2 separate regions of the Homo sapiens genome follow, and region 1 is linked to region 2. A link means that fine-mapping ties the variant in region 2 to the expression of a gene that starts in the linked region. Tissue or cell type: whole blood. Region 2 holds a variant in brackets; the other region holds the start of a gene. All regions are shown on one strand. Distances are from middle to middle.

Region 1 (8,898 bases), 21 kb after region 2:
AATGATCAAAACCCACACAAGAAGAAGTAGATAGCCTAAGTAGCCCTATTTATTTAAAATAATAAGACATATCGATATGATACGTCATAATGTGACATAATATGACACATTAATATGTCAAATATAGATAGATAGATAGATAGATAGATAGATAGATAGATAGATTTTTTTTTTTTGAGATGGAGTTTCACTCTTATTGCCTAGGCTGGAGTTCAGTGGTGTGATCTTGGCTCACTGCAACCTCTGCCTCCAAGTTAGAGCAATTCTCCTGCCTCACCCTCCCAAGTAGCTGGGACTACAGGTGCGCACCACCACGCCTGGCTAATTTTTGTATTTTTAGTAGAGATGGGGTTTCACCACATTAGCCAGGATGGTCTCCATCTCCTGACCTCGTGATCCACCCTCCTCGGCCCCCCAAAGTGCTGTGATTGCAGGCGTGAGCCACCGCACCCAGCCCTGATTTTTTATATTTTTAGTAGAGACGGGGTTTCATCGTGTTAGCCAGGATGTTCTCAACCTCCTGACCTCATGATCTGCCCACCTCGGCCTCCCAAAGTGCTGGGATTACAGGCATGAGCCACTGCACCCGGCATTTTTTTTTTTTTTTTTTTGAGACAGAGTCAGCTTTGCTCTGTCACCCAGGCTGGAGTGCAGTGGCATGATCATAGCTCACTGCAGCCTCAACCTCCCAGGCTCAAGTGATCCTCTCACCTCAGCCTCCCAAGTAGTTGGAACTACAGTTGCGCACCACCATGCCTGGCTAATTATTTTATTTATTTATTTTTTTTAGAGACTGGGTCTTGCTAAGTTGCCCAGGCTGGTCTGAAACTCCTAAGCTCAAGCAATCCTCCCACCTAGGCCTCCCAAAGTGCTAAGATTACAGGAATGAACCACTATGCCCTGCTGAGATATTCTTTTATCTCGTTCAGTAAGAGGGATCAAGGCTAGAGTTGAAAGGGCCCTTGACTGGGTGCAGTGGCTCACGCCTGTAATCCCCACACTTTGGGAGGCCAAGGTGGTAGGATCACCTGAGGTCAGGGGTTCGAGACCAGCCTGGCCAACATGGTGAAACCCCATCTCTACTAAAAATACAAAAATTAGCCAGGTGTGGTAGTGCGCACCAGTAGTCCCAGCTGCTCAGGAGACTGAGGCAGGAGAATCACTTGAACCCAGGAGGCGGAGGTTGCAGTGAGCTGAGATCTCACCACTGCACTCCAACCTGGGGGACAGAGCAAGACTCAATCTAAAAAAAAAGAAAAAAAAAAAAAAAGAGGCTGGGCGCGGTGGCTCACGCCTGTAATCCCAACACTTCGGGAGGCCAAGGCGGGTTGATCACCAGGTCAGGAGTTCGAGACCAGCCTGGCCAACATGGTGGAACCCCATCTCTACTAAAAATACAAAAAAAAAAAAAATTAACTGGGCGTGGTGGCGCGTGCCTATAATCCCAGCTACTCAAGAGGCTGAGACAGGAGAATTGCTTGAACCCGGGAGGCGGAGGTTGCAGTGAGTTGAGATCGCACCACTGCACCCCAGCCTGGGTGACAGAGCAAGACTCCGTCTCAAAAAAATAAAAATAAAAATAAGAAAAGAAAAAAGAAAGAAAGGGCCCCCAGTGAAGGTGCAGTTCCTGGGGGTCCCCACCATCCCACTCGATGTTCTCTCTCTTTCCTCTCGGGCGGCCTCTTCCCACTGAACGAGGAAAGGACGATAGCAACCATCACGGGATGATCAAGCTCTTTGCCCGGGGCAGACAAACGCGAGTCCAGAAGACTTGAGACCTTCTCCAGCCCCCAACCCAGAGCTCGGGGATCCCAGAAGACCCTCCCAGGCTAGCATCCCGGGCTTAGGCCAACGGGGCCATAATCAGGGAAAGGTAATTGGGGAAACAAGCTACGGGAATGAGAAGACCCCGAGGTTTCAGAGATCAGAATTTTTTTTTTTTTGAGACGGAGTTTTGTTCTTGTTGCCCAGGCTGGGGTGCAATAGTGCAATCCTGGCTCACTGCAGCCTCCACCTCCTGGTTTCAAGCGATTCTCCTGCCTCAGCCTCCCCAGTAGCTGGGATTACAGGCACATGCCACCACACCCGGCTAATTTTTTTGTATTTTGAGTAGAGACGGGGTTTCGCCACGTTGACCAGGCTGATTTCGAACTCCTGGCCTCAAGTGATCTGCCCGCCTTGGCGTCCCAAAGTGCTGGGATTACAGGCATGATTTATTTATTTATTTTATTTATATTTATTTATTTATTGACAATGAGTCTTGCTCTGTCATCCAGGCTGGAGTGCAGTGGCCCGATCTCAGCTCACTGCAACCTCTGCCTCCTGGGTTCAAGCGATTCTCATGCCTCAGCCTCCCGAGTAGCTGGGATTATAGCTGTGTGCCACCATGCCCAGCTAATTTTTGGTTTTGTTTGTTTGTTTATTTGTTTGAGATGGCGTCTCACTCTGTCGCCAGTCTGGAGTGCAGTGGCATGATCTCAGCTCACTGCAGTCTCCACCTCCTGGTTTCATGCAATTCCCCTGCCTCAGCCTCCCGAGTAGCAGGGACTACAGGCACGCACCACCACATCTGGCTAATTTTTGGTATTTTGGTAGAGATGGGGTTTCACCGTGTTGGTCAGGCTGGTCTCGATCTCCCGACCTTGTGATCCACCCACCTCGGCCTCCCAAAGTGCTGGGATTACAGGCATGAGCCACCATGCCTGGCAAATTTTTGGTATTTTAGTAGAGACGGGGCTTCACCATGTTGGCCTGGCTGTGTCTTGAACTCCTGACCTCAAGTGATCCCACCCGCCTGGGCCTCCCAAAGTGCTGAAATCACAGGCTTGAGCCACTGCACCCAGCCAGAGTTCAGAATCTTGAACCGTTACTGACGTCGACTCCCCCATCTGAAGCCTCCGCATGGAAGCCATCACCCTGTTTTGTTTTCTCCTAGATAATTCTTGTTGCCAGAATTATTTTATCTGCTTATGAGTTTACAGACTAAATGTCTTGGCTCCTTCACAGGAAATGAGATCCAGGAAGACAGAAATATCTTCCCCTGTTTGGCTGCCTCGTTCCTGGGAGCTACCCAATAAATCTTAAATGAATGAATAATGAATGAATGAACCAATGAACCAATCAATCCATCCTTTCTAGCCCCCAAAGGAGCCCTAGACAAGCCCTCTCCAGCCATGGCAGGGAGGTAAAGGCGAGAGGGAGCGTCCTGGTGAAGGAGAGGCTGGAGCCGGCCCCTCCCTTACGGGTGGGCTGGCCAGAACGGGTTGCACACCTGAGCTCATCATTCCCTCGCCATGACACAGACAGGTAGGGCGTGCTGGGCCTGCCCGGCAGGGGCCCGGTAGAGCCACGTCTGCTATTGTATATGCCCCACACAGTGGACAGGCCTGGGCACCTGGCCGCTGGTCGCACGTTGGACAAGGAACTTGGCTTCTCTGAACCTCAGTCTTTCTCATCTGGAAAATGGGTTCCAGGCTCCCCATTCCCTGGGAGGAGGCGACGGCTCCACGATGCCAATGTCTGACCTAGCCTGATCCGCCTCCTTGCCCCGACACCCCTGCCGGCTGGCCACCGCCCACTGCCCACCACCCACCGCCCACCGACCCTGGACTCACCCAAAAGCAGCAGCTTCAGCTCCCCGCGGTCCTGCTTCTTCTGCTCCAAGAGGATCCTGTTGATCTCCTGGTCCACCCGGGCGGCGGCCTTCTCATCCTCCGTCAGGCACCAGGGGCAGCAGCGCCAGGTCAGCGAGCGGGCCATGGTGCGGTGGCCTCAGTCGGCACCGGGTGGCATCGCCCCCGGGCCCCTGCTGGCCAGGGCAACCCCCAGCCCAGCCGGCCCTGGAGAGGGCTCCGGGCAACCGGGTGCGCAGGGAGGCTGCCTTTTCCTTGGGGGTCACCCCCCAGGGACCTAGACTTCCTTGCCTGAAACACCCAGGAAGCCCGGCTCGGCGGTGGCAAGGCTTGAGTGCTGGGAACAGGGTGGGGACGGGAGGAGGTGGGGAGGCCAGGGCTCCCCGCCCACCTCCAGACCTGCTCAGACCCGGCCCGACAGGTTGACGGTGAAGGGTGCCAGGAGAGGGTGAGGTGGGGGCCCCAGGGAGGGCGGGGCGGTGGCGGGAAAACCCCCACCGCAGACTGGGTCCTGTGTGACCAGCAGGGCCCTTCTTCCTCCTTCTGGAGAAGGGGCGGATTCTCCTCAGGCTTCACCCGGAGCTGTCCCCCTCCTCGGAGCCAATCAGGAACCGTCAGACCCGTGCTACTGCTGATACATTATATATATATCATATATATATGTGTGTGTATATATATATATGTGTATATATATATATATATATATATATATATATATATATATATATATATATTTTTTTTTTTTTTTTTGAGACAGAGTTTCACTCTTATTGCCCAGGCTGGAGTGCAGTGGCAGGATCTTGACTCTGCAACATCTGCCTCCCAGGTTCAAGCAATTCTCCTGCCTCAGCCTCTCGAGTAGCTGGGATTACAGGCATCCACCACCACGCCGGGCTAACTTTGGATTTTTAGTAGAGAAAGGGTTCCACCACGTTGGCCAGGCTGGTCTCAAACTCCTGACCTCAGGTGATCCACCCGCCTCGGCCTCCCAAAGTGCTGGGATTGCAGGCATAAACCACCACGCTCGGCCCTTCTGATATATTTTTAAGAAACAGCTCAGGCCAGGTGTCATGGACTGTTTCCAGCGACTCTGCCCTGACCTCAGGTGATCCACCCTGCAGAGGTGGGCAGCTTGCCTGAGGTCAGGAGTTCGAAACCAGCCTGGCCAACATGGCGAAACCCTGTCTCTACTAAAGATACAAAAATTAGCCGGGTTTTGGCTCACATTAGCTGGTTTTACACTCACATCACCCTGTATAGTTACTACTGTCATCCCTGTTTGACTGATGAGGAGGTTGAGGCATAGAGCAGGGGAGTGACCGGTGGGGCTGGCACAAGGCAGAGCCGGGAGCCTATCCCTCACCTGCGGGGCCCCAGAGTCTAGACGCCTACCAGGCAGATTCCAGGCAGGGCCATCCCTTCATTGTGCGTGCATTCATGGAGCGCCAACTGTGTGCCAGGCACGGTAGCCAAGAGACACAGATCCCAGACCTCCTTACCTAAGGTTCTAGTTAAAGAACAGATAATAAAATAAATTTTAGGCTGGGCCTGGTGGCTCACGCATGTAATCCCTATACTTTGGGAGGCCAAGGCGGGCAGATCACAAAGTCAAGAAATCGAGACCAGCCTGGCCAACACGGCGAAACCCCGTCTCTACTAAAAATACAAAAATTAGCCGGGCGTGGTGGTGCACGCCTGTAGTCCCACCTACTTGGGAGGCTGAGGCAAGAGAATCGCTTGAACCCGGGAGGCAGAGGTGGCAGTGAGCTGAGATCGTGCCACTGCACTCCAGCCTGGCGACGAAGTGAGACTCCATCTCAAAAAAAATAAAAAATAAAAGAATAAAAAATTTGGCCAGGTGAGTGCGGGAGCTCACATCTGTAATCAAAGTACTTTGGGAGGCCGAGGCAGGAGGATCACTTGAAGTCAGGAGTTTGAGACCAGCCTGGCCAACATGGAGAAACTCCATCTCTACTAATACAAAAATTAGTTGGGCATGTTGGCACGCACCAGTAGTCCCAGCTACTTGGGAGGCTGAGGCAAGGGAATCACTTGAACCCCGAAGATGGAGGCTGCAGTGAGCCGAGATCATAACACTGCTCTCCAGCCTGGGCAACATAGTGAAACCCTGTCTCCAGAAACAAACAAAACAAAACTCTCCCTCTCTCTCTATGTATATATATACACACACACACATACATATATATACACATACATATATATACACAATATATAGACACACATACATATATGTATATACACATACATATATACACATACATATATATACACAATATATAGACACACATACATATATACACATACATATATACACACATAAAAGTATACATTTTAATATACATATATGTATATTATACATAAAAATATATATGTGTGTATATATATACACACACGTGTAAAATATATATATTTTTTAATACACCTGAGCCCGTTGGATGGTGAAAAATTCTGCCAGAAAAATTAAGCAGAGATGTTGTTGGGGAAGGTTCAAGGTCATTGCTCTAAATGGATCAACAAAGGTCGCACAGACAAGTGATATTCAGGATCAGAAGTCAGACAGGCAGATCGGGTGTAAGAGGGACTTTGGGAGTGGACCTCACTGGTCAAGGAGATCTTCCCAATGAGTGCCATGAGGCCGCCCTGACCTGATCCCTCTGGGACTTCAGGGCCCTAGGGGTGGGCTGGTGGCTGGCAGCTTGGTAGAAACGTTGCTGCTTCCTAGGTACTCAGAGCCAGAGTGTTTGGGTGAAGATTCCCCACCCCCATTGACAGGCTGTAGAAAATTCTAGAAAGTTCTGGATCAAAACTCTCCTCCCCAAGAGATACACGTAATTCTTGTACTTCGGGGGCCTCTGGTCCCTTTACAGATAGGGCAAGGCACAGAGAGGGCGAATTACGTGCCCAGGGCCACACAGCCATTGGCAGCCACCGTCCCCACCTCCTCCCAGACACCAGGGCTCGGTGACAGCCGTTGACGCAGCTTCACCAGCTCAGCACAAACGTGTGGTTTTCTCCACTGTTGATTCATAACGAATGACAGATGGGAAGTACGATAGGGGCCCCCATCTGGTCACTGGGGCTGGCAGGTGCCATCTGCCCACCCAGCCACCCACCTTCCCGCCCCCAACCGGATAGCAGCAACGAGGGGCAGTCCCACCCAGGACAGGCAAAGAAACGCAGAAATAGGTCATGGCCGTGCAGATCTTCCAGGATGGTTGAAACAGAAATGACCAGCAAAACTGGGAGACGAGGCTGAGCCACAGGCCCCACAGGGTGAGCCCAGGGGGCCACTCTCCTAGCATCTCCCTGCGGCATTTTTGGACAGGATACCAGCACCCGCCATCTTCACAGCCTGGACCAGGGTGGCAGACCCTCTGTGGCTCCCGCTGGCTTCAGAATTAATGAGCCGGCTCCCTGGATCCAGGGCCCAGGCTCTGCCCACTTCTCCAGCTGCTGAACAAACCTCCCTTGCGGTTCCCTAAACGGGCTGAGCTACTTCCTTGCCACATGCTGAGCATTTGTCGTGTATTATTAGCTCAGCTGGGAACACCAGGGTGAGCTTGTGTGTGTAGAAAATATTTCTTTCAGAAAACACATAAAACCTGAATGTATTACCTAATAAATTGTTGTGAAGCCGGTATCCACAGAATCCACTGAGGCCAAGACTAAGGACATTTTCAGGCCGGGCGCGGTGTCTCACGCCTGTCATCCCAGCACTTTGGGAGGCCAAGGTGGGCAGATCACCTGAGGTCAGGAGTTCAAGACCAGCCTGGACAACATGGTGAAACCCCGTCTCTACTAAAAATAGAAAAGTTAGCCAGGTGTGATGGTGCACACCTGTAATCCCAGCTACTCGGGAGGCCGGGGGAGGAGTATTGCTTGAGCCTGGGAGGTGGAGGTTGCAGTGAGCTGAGATCGTGCCACTGCACTCCAGCCTGGGTGACAAGCAAGACTCTGTCTCAAAAAAAAAAAAAAAAAGACCTTAGCCCCACAAAGACCCCTAGTGTTTTCCTCATAGTAATCTCTACCTTCCCAGCAGTAACTATCATTCTGACTTCTGTGGTATTAATATTTATTTCCGGGTTTGGGGGGTATTTTTTGCTAATAAGATCTATTTCAGCTGGGCATGTTGGCTCATGCCTATAATCTCAGCACTTTGGGAGGCTGAAGTGGGAGGATTGCTTGACCCCAGGAGTTCAAGACCAGCCTGGGCAACATAGTGAGACTCTATCTCTTTTTTTCTTTTTTCTTTCTTTCTTTCTTTTTTTTTTTTTTTTTTTTTTTTGAGACGGTGTTTTGTTATTGTTGCCCAGGCTGGAGTGCAATGGCTCGGTCTCAGCTCACTGCAACCTCCACCTTCCCAGTGAGACCCCATTTCTAAAAAATAAAATAAAATAAATTAGCCGGGGGTGGTGGCTCATGCCTGTGGTCCCAGGTACTCCAGAGGCTAAGGTGGGAGGATTGCTTAGGCCAGAGAGGTTGAGGCTGCAGTGAGCTATGATTGACCCACTGCACTCCAGCCTGGGTTGACAGAGCAAGGGTCTGTCCCCCCCAAAAAAAGATCTTGTTTTTAATTGTCTAAATTTATGTAGCATTGTATTTACTTTCTTTGGTGTATGGTTCTATGAGTTTATTTATTTATTTATTTATTTATTTATTTATTGAGACGGAGTCTGTCTCTGTCACCCAGGCTGGAGTGCAGTGGCACGATCTCGGCTCACTGCAAGCTGAGCCTCCCGGGTTCACGCCATTCTGCTGCCTCAGCCTCCCGAATAGCTGGGACTACAGGTGCCCACCACCACGCCGGGCTAATTTTTTTTGTATTTTAGTAGAGACGGGGTTTCACCATGTTGTCCAGACTGGTCTCGATCTCCTGACGTCGTGATCCGCCCGCCTCGGCCTCCCAAAGTGCTGGGATTACAGGCGTGAGCCACCGCGCCCGGCCTGGTTTCTATGAGTTTTAACAGCTGTAGAGATTCGTGTAAATTACTGCTATAAACAGGATACAGAATGTAGTTCCATCACCGGAACAACTCCCTCCTGACCGTGGATTGGCTCTTTGTGGCTGTGTTTTTTGTTTGTTTGTTTGTTTTGGTGTTTTTTTTTTTGTTTTTTTTTTTCTCAGCCAGCTGTGCTTTATTGACAACGCGCCACTCGGGCCTTGACCGCGCACTTCCGCACTGGGGACAGCTGCTCGCTCTGCTGCTGCTTCTTGATCGTCAGGTTCTCCTCGTGCTTGCTGAGC
Region 2 (10,171 bases):
AAAGTGTGGTTTCTTATTATTATCACAAATATTATTTAGCACAGTGGAGGGTAGGGCTGGGAGTCAGCAAAGAGTGCACCAGTCACTTGTGCTGGGAGACAAGGATGAGTCATGGGTGGTTCCCTTTGACCTGAATGAAAAAAATATCTACCTTATCCTGTTCCCAAATTCTCTAAACTATGAGCTGATTCCCAGGGCTGCTTGGCAAGGAAGAGGGGCTATCCAGGCCACCATCCTGGAACAACTTGACGTCTATCTCCCAGACCCTGAATCTTGTGGGTATAATTGGCTAAAATTGGCCTCATGGGCTCTGAGACATGACAAGACCAGGGATCAAAACCTGGTGACTTCACCAAAGTTTATGTTTACTGATTGTGGACCTGGTGTCAAGCATGTACTAAGGACTCATCTACTATGGTTGCTTGTATATTGAGGTGAACAGTGTCCCCCAAAATTCATGTCCACCTGGAACTTCAGAATATGACTTTTAGAAATCGGATATTTGCAGATGTAATTAGTTAAGTTAAATTAGGTCATGGCCAGGCATGAGGGCTCACGCCTGTAATCCTAGCACTTTGGAAGGCCAAGGCAGGTGGATGACAGATGTGTGGTTGGGCCCAGGAGTTCCAGATCAGCCTGGGCAACATGGCGAAACCCTGTCTCTACAGAAATATACAAAAATTACCCAGGTGTGGTGGTGTGCGCCTGTAGTCCCAGCAACTCAAGAGGCTGAGGTGGGAGGATCACCTGTGCCCAGGAGGTTGAGGCTGCAGTGAACTGTGATCACACCACTGGACTCTAGCCTGGGCAACAGAGCAAGACCTTGTCTCAAAAAAAAAAAAAAAAAAAAAAAGTGGTCATACCAAAGTATGGGCCCTAAATCCAATGACTGGTGGCCTTATAACAACAGGAGAGGACACATAAAGGCATGGTGAGAAGACAGCCATGTGAACATGGAGGCAGAGATTGCAGTGATATGTCTACAAGCTAAGGATTGTAGGCCACCACCAGAAGCTGAGAGAGAAGCATGGAATGGATTTTCCCTTAGAGCCTCCAAAAGGAACCAACCTTGCCAATACCTTAACTTTGGACTTCTGTTGTTTCCTGTTGTTTTAAGCCACCCAGTTTGTGGTACTTTGTTACGGCATCCCCAGGACATGAAGGCAAGTTATCTCCAAGATGGCTGCCGTCACTTCCTTCCCTCCCTGTATGCATGTGTCATGCTGCCTTCAAGAGATGGAGTCTCTTTCTTTTGAATCCGGGCTGATATGAGTGATGTGCTTGACAAATAGAATGTGGCAGAGTAACGTCTGACATTTCTGAGGCTATCATGAGAAGCAGCTTCCACCTGGGCTGAAGTCTGTCTACCCTGAGGCAGCCATATTGTGAGTAAGCTCAAACCATGTGAAGAGGCTGTGGATCATGAGGCCCCAGATGGAGACAGAGAGAACAGGGGAGGTGGAAAAGGAGAGACAGACTAGGAGAAAGGGGAGGAGAGAGAGATGAGATGGGAGAGGGAGGCAGGGAGAGACACAGAGAGAGAGGCCAAGAGTGCCAAGAGCACCAAGGCACCAGACATATGGGGGAAGAAGCCATCTTGGAAGTTTATCTCCAATCCCATAGAGCCCAGCTGATGTCACATGGATCAGAGATGAACTTACCCAGCTCAACCTTTCCCAAATTCCTGACCCACAAAATCATAAGCAAAGGAAAATGACCAGTTTAAGTCACTAAGTTTGGGGATGGTTTGTTACTCGGCAGTAGCTAAGCAGGACACCCGCCACCACACTTTATCCTCACAGTGGTGTTCTGGGGAAAGTGCTAGTGAATATGTACCTTCCCCACGTTGGTCCCTGGATTAACCACAACTCTGCCTCCCCTTTGTAAAATATACTAAGTGGTGCCCAACACTAGATGGTGTTTCTCTGTAGTTGCCCTGTGGCCCTTTCACCCTCTGGATGGACTGAGAGTTTGTTCCCAAACCTGTTTTTGCCCATTGTACGTGTCTTGATTCATATGTAATTAAAAGAAACGTTATGCAAATCTGTAGCTACAAGTGCCGCATGAAAGAAGGTCATTGTATTACAAAACTAAGCTGTGTGCTTTGGAAACATTGTTCAAAGCTCTGCTTTAAAAATTAAAGAGAAAGGCCAGGTGTGGTGGCTCACGCCTGTAATCCCAGCACTTTGAGGCCGAGGCGGGTGGATCACCTGAGGTCGGGAGTTCAAGTCCAGCCTGACCAACATGGAGAAACCCCGTCTCTACTAAAAACACAAAATTAGCCGGGGTGGTGGCTCATGCCTGCAATCCCAGCTACTCGGGAGGCTGAGGCAGGAGAATCCCTTGAACCCGGGAGGCGGAGGTTGCGGTGAGCCGAGATTGTGCCATTGCACTCCAGCCTGGGCAAAAAGAGCAAAACTCCATCTCAAAAAAAAAAAAAAAAAGAAAAGAAATTAAAGAAAAAATAGACTGGGCACGATGGCTCACGCCTGTAATCCCAGCACTTTGGGAGGCCGAGACAGGTGGATCATGAGGTCAGGAGATTGAGACCAACCTGGGTAACATGATGAAACCCCATCTCGACCAAAAATACAAAAAACTAGCCAGACGTTCTGGCGGGCACCTGTAATCCCAGCTACTCGGGAGGCTGAGGCAGCAGAATGGTGTGAACCCAGGAGGCAGAGCTTGCAGTGAGCTGAGATTGCGCCACTGCACTCCAGCCTGGGCAGCAGAGCGAGACTCCGTCTCAAAAAACAAACAAAAAAAAATTAAAGAAAAAATGGATTAAAGAAAAAGAAATTGCTATCCAATTAGGGATAGATGAGATCACTATGAAAGATTAGAAAAAGAAACGTTATGGCCAGATGCGGTGGCTCACGCCCGTAATCCCAGCACTTTGGGAGGCTGAGGTAGGTGGATCACTTGAGGTCAGTTCGAGACCAGCCTGACCAACATGGTGAAACCCCATCTCTACTAAAAATAGGACAGGAAACTACTAAAAATTAGCCAGGCTTGGTGGCACGTGCCTGTAATCACAGCTACTTGGGAGGCTAAGGCAGGAGAATCACTTGAACCGGGGAGTTGGAGGTTGCCATGAGCCAAGATCGCACCACTGTACTCCAGCCTGGGTGACAGAGTGAGACTCTGTCTCAAAAAGAAAAAATAGAAGAAAGAAAGAAAAGAAAAAGAATCATTCTTAAAACCTAGGCAGATTCTGGAAATAGTAGACAATCTTTCCAGAAGTGCTTTACAACAGTGACCTCTACATAGCAAACCCATGCTTGAAGGATCTTGGCTCAAACCCCAAATGTTGGCCAACAAGCATAAAATAAAATGTTTGGCCGGGCATGGTGGCTCCTGTCTATAATCCTAGCACTTTGGGAGGCTGAGGCGGGTGGATCAGGAGGTCAAGTGATCGAGACTATCCTGGTCAACATGGTGAAATCCCGTCTTTTCGTACTAAAAACACAAAAATTAGCTGGGCGTGGTGGCGCGCACCTGTAGTTCCAGCTACTAGGGAGGCTGAGGTAGGAGAATCGCTTGAACTCTGGAGGGAAAGGTTGCAGTGAGCCGAGATCACGCCACTGCACTCCAGCCTGGTGACAGAGCAAGACTCTGTCTCAAAAATAAATAAATAAATAAAATGTTTAAGGTGTACGTGATATGCTACGTGTTTTTAGAATTCCTCACTTTACTCAGTTCCAAGGGCCTCTGCTATTTTATTCCATTCCACAGAAGGGAAAACAGATTCAATGAGGTCGGGCAGTGGATGGAGCTGAGTCTAGAACGCGGGTCTGATCCTATGTGAAAGTTCCGGTGACTCCAGGCTGAAGTAGAGTCTGGATTAGCATCTCTCTTCGGAGCTGCTTTTGGGAGTTGAAGGGTATAGAAAGTTCTAGAATTACTTACCCTGGAAACTGGGGAAATAGGTAGCCAGGTGGGAGGTGGGGATTTTCTCCTCCAGGATGTCGGTTTTGTTGAGAAAGAGGATGACGGATGTGCTTTTGAACCAGGGTAGTTCCAGGATAGTCCCAAACAATGCGAGGCTCTCCTTCATGCGGTTCTGTGTTGGGGGCAGAAGCAGGTTAGTGCTTCAACCAGCCAGGTGGGACAGGAAACCCTCCCATCGCGGAGACGGGGCTGTTGGCTCCAGGGGCATGGGCTCACCCCTATCTGCCTGGCTGGGGCTGAGGCGGGTGTGCCCGTGTTTCCATATGGACAGCTGCCTGGGTGTGCCTGACATGGTTTTGTGCCTGTGCTGGTTGGAAGTGTGTCCTCCCGAAATTCATGTCCCCCCAGAGCTTCAGAGTGTGACCTTATCTGGAGAGAGATTCTTGAACTCCTGGCCTCCCAGCGTGCTGGGGTTATAGGCATGAACCACTGCACCTGGCCTGGAGATAGGGTCTTTGAAGAGGTCGTTAAGGTGAGGCAATACTAGAATACGGTGGCCCTCAAGTCCGTGACTGCTGTCCTCATAAGAAGAGGGAGACCTGGCCGGGCGCGGCAGCTCACGGCTGTAATCCTAGCACTTTGGGAGGCCAAGGCGGGCAGATCACCTGAGGCCAGGAGTTGGAGACCAGCCTGGCTAACATGGTGAAACCCCGTTTCTACTAAAAATACAAAAAATTAGCCGGGCATGATGGCAGGTGCCTGTAAACCCAGCTACTCGGGAGGCTGAGGCAGGAAAATCGCTTGAACCCGGGAGGCGGAGGTTGCAGTGAGCTGAGATCGCGCCACTGCACTCTAACCTGGGCGACAAAAGCGAGACTCCATCTCAAAAAAAAAAGTACAATAAGGTCTCAAATGCCTTGTGTTATGGGGTACATCATATTTCCCCAAAATTCATACGTTCAAGACCTAACCCCCTAGAACCTCAGTTTGTGACCTTCTTTGGAAACAGGGCCATCACACGAGGAATTAACCCAGATGAGGTCGTACTGGAGTAGGGTGGGCCCTGATCCTAGACGACTGGTGTACTTATTAAAAGAGGCTATTGGCTGGGCACAGTGGCTCACGCCTGTAATCCCAGCACTTTGGGAGGCCGAGGCGGGCGGATCACGAGGTCAGGAGATTGAGACCATCCTGGCTAACATGGTGAAACCCCCTCTCTTCTAAGAATACAAAAAAAAAATTAGCCGAGCGTGGTGGCGGGTGCCTGTAATCCCACCTACTCCGGAGGCTGAGGCAGGAGAATGGTGTGAACCCGGGAGGCGGAGTTTCCAGTGAGCCGAGATCGCGCCACTGCACTCCAGCCTGTGCGTGTGCGTGCATGTGTGTGTGCAC[G/T]CATGTGTGTGCCTGTGTGCCTGTGTGTGCGTGTGTGTGCCTGTGTGTGCGTGTGCATGTGTGTACTGTGTGTGTGCATGTGTGTGTTCATGTGTGTGCGCATGTGTACATATGCGTGTATTGTGCACGTGAGTGCATGCAAGTGTGCATGTGTGTGGTGCATGTGTGTTCGTGTGCATGTGTTGTGCATGTGCACTGCGTGTGTACATGTGTCCCGTGTGTGCACGTGTGTATGTGCATGTATTATGCACGTGTCTGTGCGTGTTTGTGTGCATGCATTGTGTATGTGCGTGTGTGCACTGTAGTGTGTGTGTGTGTGTGTGTGTGTGTGTGTGTGTGTGTGTCTGGGGTCCTGACCAAACAAATGCTGTAGGTCTGTGTCTTGGGTTGCTGCAATCTGACCACAAAAGGCTGAAGGGTCAAGTTCATAGCCATGCTGGGCACACACAGGCCCGTTCAAGAGCAGGGATCCCTCCCTTTCTGCACCAGAGCTTCCTGCTCAGGTGAGGGTCCCTGGGCCAACAAGTGGGCAGGGCGAGGGAGGCGGTGGCGCACCTCCTGGTTGTTCTCCTCCAGGCACTGGTCGTATTCACTCAGTGAGGCCAGGTAGATGAGGGCGATCACGTTCTCGAAACAATGGATCCATTTCTTACGCTCTGACTTCTGGCCCCCGACGTCCACGATCCTACAGGGAACCGAGGTGCCCCCTTTCAGAGCTCAGGAGCCTGCTCCGTGACACCCCCAACCCCCATCACGTCTGGGATATGCCAAGATCCATAATAGCGACAGCAAGAATAGGTGCTAGCCTCTCGTGGATTTGCCATGTCATTCCCGCGAGGCAAGGATGAGTCTTACGCCCATTTTACAGATGAGAAGCCTGAGATCCAGGGAGGAGCGGGGACTTTCCCAAGCTTCTACTGTGCTGGGCTGCCTGCTTTCTACCCCCATATTAGAGGGGAGCAGGTTGGACAGATCTGAGATGTGCCCTGGTGCTGGCTGGGCGACCCGGCGGAGGAAATTGCCAAACATCTCCAAAACTCAGTTTTCCCATCTGTGCTATGGGGCTCCTGTGCTCTGGCTGGCCATGGGCATGTCCAGTGGCCACACAGATGGGAATGAGGGCTGTTCCCAGAGCACACGTCCTCCCCTCCATCTGTGACTCAGCCCCACGCACCGTAACAAAAGCCTGAACCCTGCCCCCACCTTCCTGTTCTCTCTCTTCTGAGAAATGTGGGTCGCTGATAACCATCTGTGCGTCATTTCCCTGGGGATGCAACCGTTACTCAGGAAGTCCCAGAACAGAGGCTTTGGACGGGCCCGGCCCAGGGCCTCAAGCAAGAAGGGACTTGCCCCATTGCACAGGAGGGGAAACCGGGACTGATGATGAAGCAGTTAGGCTGCAGCTGCTGGATGTGTCTCCTGATCCCTGAGACCCACTCCTCCCATGCATCCTCAGAGTCCCTCAAACCCCACATCCAGAGCCAGACAGGGTAAGCAGCCGTCGAGAGGGGGCTCTGGAGACTGAGACGGGAGTGGGATCAGCAACTGACCAGTTGGGAACTGTGGGCATCACCTCTCATCTCGGGTCTCAGTGTCCTCTGAGCCCTCACTCCATTCATTCGTCTCACTCCTGGGCCACACCTAAAAATCACTTCCTTGGCCCAGACTTCCCCATGATTTCCCAGCCTCTACCTTCACTCCTAAACTTTTATCCACCCACCCACCCCATTCATCGATTTATTCACTCATCCATCCACCCATCCACCCACCCACTCATCCATCCACCCATCCAGCCATTCACTCATCCATCCATCTATCCATCTACCCATCTATCCATCCATCCATCATCCATCCACCCACCCATCCATCCACCCATCCAGCCATTCACTCATCCATCCATCTATCCATCTACCCATCTATCCATCCATCCATCATCCATCCACCTGTCCACCCATTTACGAAATCCACCCACCGACCCACCCATCCATCTCTCCATTTACTCATCCATCCATCCATCCACCCATCTGTCCACCCATTACCCAGCTACCCATCCATCCATCTACCCATCTATCCACTCACTCATCCACCCATGTACCCATCCACCCACCCTCCCACCCATCCACTCATCCATTCATCCACTCACCCATCCACCCATTCATCCATTCATCCGTCACCCACCACCCATCTACCCATTCATTCATCCATCCATCCACTCATCCACCCATCCATCCACCCATTCATCCATCCATCCATCACCCACCACCCATCTACCCATTCATTCATCCATCCATCCACTCATCCACCCATCCATCCACCCATTCATCCATCCATCCATCCATCCATCCCACCCATCCATCCATCTATCCATCCACCCATCCATCTATTCATTCACTCATCCATCCATCTATCCGTCTATCCATCTACCCATCTATTCATCCATCCATCATCCACCTGCCTGTCCACCCATTTACTCAATCCACCCATCCATCCATCGCTTCATCTACTCATCTATCCATCCACCCATCTGTTCACCCATTATCCATCTACTCATACATCCATCTACCCATCTATCCACTCACTCGTCCACCCATCTACCCATCCACCCACCCACACCCCCATCCACTCATCCATTCATCCATCCATTCACCCACTCATCCATCCATCCTTCACTCACCCATTCACCCATTTATTCATTCATTCATCCATCACCTGCCACCCATCTACCCATTCATTCATCCATCCATCCACTCATCCACCCATCCATCCATGCATTCACCCACCCATTCATCCATCCATTCATCCATCCCACCCACCCATCCATCTATCCACTCATCCATCCATCCTTCACTCACCAATCCACCCACCCATCCATTCACCCATCACCCTTCCACCCATCTACCCATTAATTCATCCATCCACTCATTCACCCATCCATCCACCCATTCATCCACCCATCTATCCATCTATCCACTCATCCACCCACTCATCCATTCATGTATCACCCATCCACCCATCTAACCATCCATCCATCCATCCATCCACTCATCCCTCTTTCAATCCATCCATCTATCCATCCATTCATCCATCCACCCACTCATCCATCTATCCATTGATTCATCCACTCATCCATCCTGCCACTCCATCCATCCACTCATCTATCCCTCAACTTATCCATCCATCTATTCATCTATCCATCCACCCATTCATCCACCCATCCATTCCCTTCCATCTTTCCTTTTTTTTTTTTTTTAAAGATTCCCAGACCAAGTATCTCTCCCATAGAAGTCATCCTTGGGTACTAACACTACTATTGTGTCCCAGAGCTGGTTCCTTCTCGTGGGTTCTCGGTCTCGCTGACTTCAAGAATGAAGCCGCAGACCTTCGCAGTAAGTGTTACAGCTCTTAAAGGTGGTGTGGACCCAAAGAGTGAGCAGCAGCAAGATTTATTGTGAAGAGCGAAAGAACAAAGCTTCCACAGCGTGGAAGGGGACCCGAGCGGGTTGCCCCCATTCCATCTTTCCAACCATCCACCCACATTTACCAACTTCTACTCTGACCTTTAGCTATTCACTAAAGAAGCAGAAGAATCAAACTCAGCCCCTAACCTTGTGAGGCTCTCCATCTTGTAGAGGAGACCCACAGAAAACAGATAAATTATGAACCTTCCTAGTAAGGACTATTGAAGAGGCCAAAACAATAGGTTTGGGGGATTTAGGGAAAGGAAGGCCAAATAGGGGTAGGTCAAACACAATCGCTGTCTCTGGGCATGACTTTGCACCCCTGCTCAGCTCCCCGCCATCAGCCCATGGAAACAGATCTTGCTAAGGTCACCAGTGACCCTCTAACTGCCAATCCCAGAGTCATTCTTCTCACTGTATTCTTGACCTTTCCTTTCCTGACCTTTGACATTGGCCATTGCTCTGCTGGGTTAGGGTTAGGGTTAGGGTGCTGCACTGGCCATTCCCACCTCTGTCTGCCAGCTAAGGTGGAGTCCCCCTAGGCCCCTCAGACTCAACCTGTCCCAAAGGACTCCATCACCACCTTTTCATCCTCTAGCCCACCGGCTCCACTGTCTACCCCCATCACCTTGACAAAAAACTCAGGTGTCATTTTTGACTTCCTGTTCTAATTCCCACACTCATCCAGTCCTGCCCATTCCACATCAGAAACAACTCTTGCCCATCCCTTCCTTTCCATCCCCACGCCCGCTGTCCTGGCTCCTCCTTTTTCTGAGTTTCCTGACTTCCAGCCTCACACTCTAGTCCATCCCCCAGTGTTGATGACTACAGGGATCACCTCTGAGCTCCCCAGACCAGGCCTCCCCAGACCTGGTCCTGACTGTATAGTCTCTATTTCCTCCTCCCCAGCAGCCCCTTCAGGGTTAGGACTACTGAACTCCTATTCGTCTTTCAAAACCCCATTAATATTCCCTCCTCCAAGAAGATATTCCCTCCTGGATCTCTGATGCCTCAGCCTGGGCTCCTACAGGTCCCAGTCCTGACTACCTGGGGGCCTGGAGGTGTCTACATGGAGCTTTGCTTCCCCTAGCTTGGCAGCTCCTTGAAGGCTGGGCCTAAGAAACTCCTACTCATCCCTCAGGGCCCCAGCTCCTTTGCCCTTCCTACAGGAAGCCTTCCCTGCCCCCTAGGCTGGGCCTAGGTGGAGCGCTCACCGCAGGTTGGTTTTCTGCACGGAGAAGCAGTACTCGTTGATGCCAGTGGTGGGCATGCGGCTGCGGAGCACGTCCTGAGCTGTGGGGACGTAGCCCTCCTCGGTGATGCGCTCCAGGTGGGACAGGTAGCTGCAGAGCAAGGAGTCCTGAGGCCCAGCCTTGCAGCCAGCCTCCCTTTGCTTCCCAGGCCCTACGAAAGGCCCAGCAAGGACCCTG

What was found. PIP is the estimated chance that this variant, and not a neighbour inherited with it, causes the effect.
Region 1: it holds the start of GNA15, and the variant in region 2 is fine-mapped to the expression of GNA15 in whole blood (INTERVAL, PIP above 0.99).

Annotation. Positions count from the first base shown.
Region 1 is chr19:3,131,312-3,140,209 of GRCh38, reverse strand. GNA15 (G protein subunit alpha 15) reads right to left here and starts at 4,177. Exons shown (of 7, transcript NM_002068.4): 1 at 3,615-4,177. The coding sequence starts at 3,759. It also overlaps the pseudogene RPL35P10.
Region 2 is chr19:3,151,620-3,161,790 of GRCh38, reverse strand. GNA15 (G protein subunit alpha 15) reads right to left here. Exons shown (of 7, transcript NM_002068.4): 4 at 9,956-10,084; 5 at 5,839-5,968; 6 at 3,910-4,063. It overlaps GNA15-DT (GNA15 divergent transcript), which reads left to right and starts at 6,616. Exons shown (of 4, transcript NR_110670.1): 1 at 6,616-6,773. RefSeq lists enhancers at 6,296-6,385, 6,426-6,755, 6,043-7,000. The variant G/T (reference allele first, on the strand shown) is at 5,284.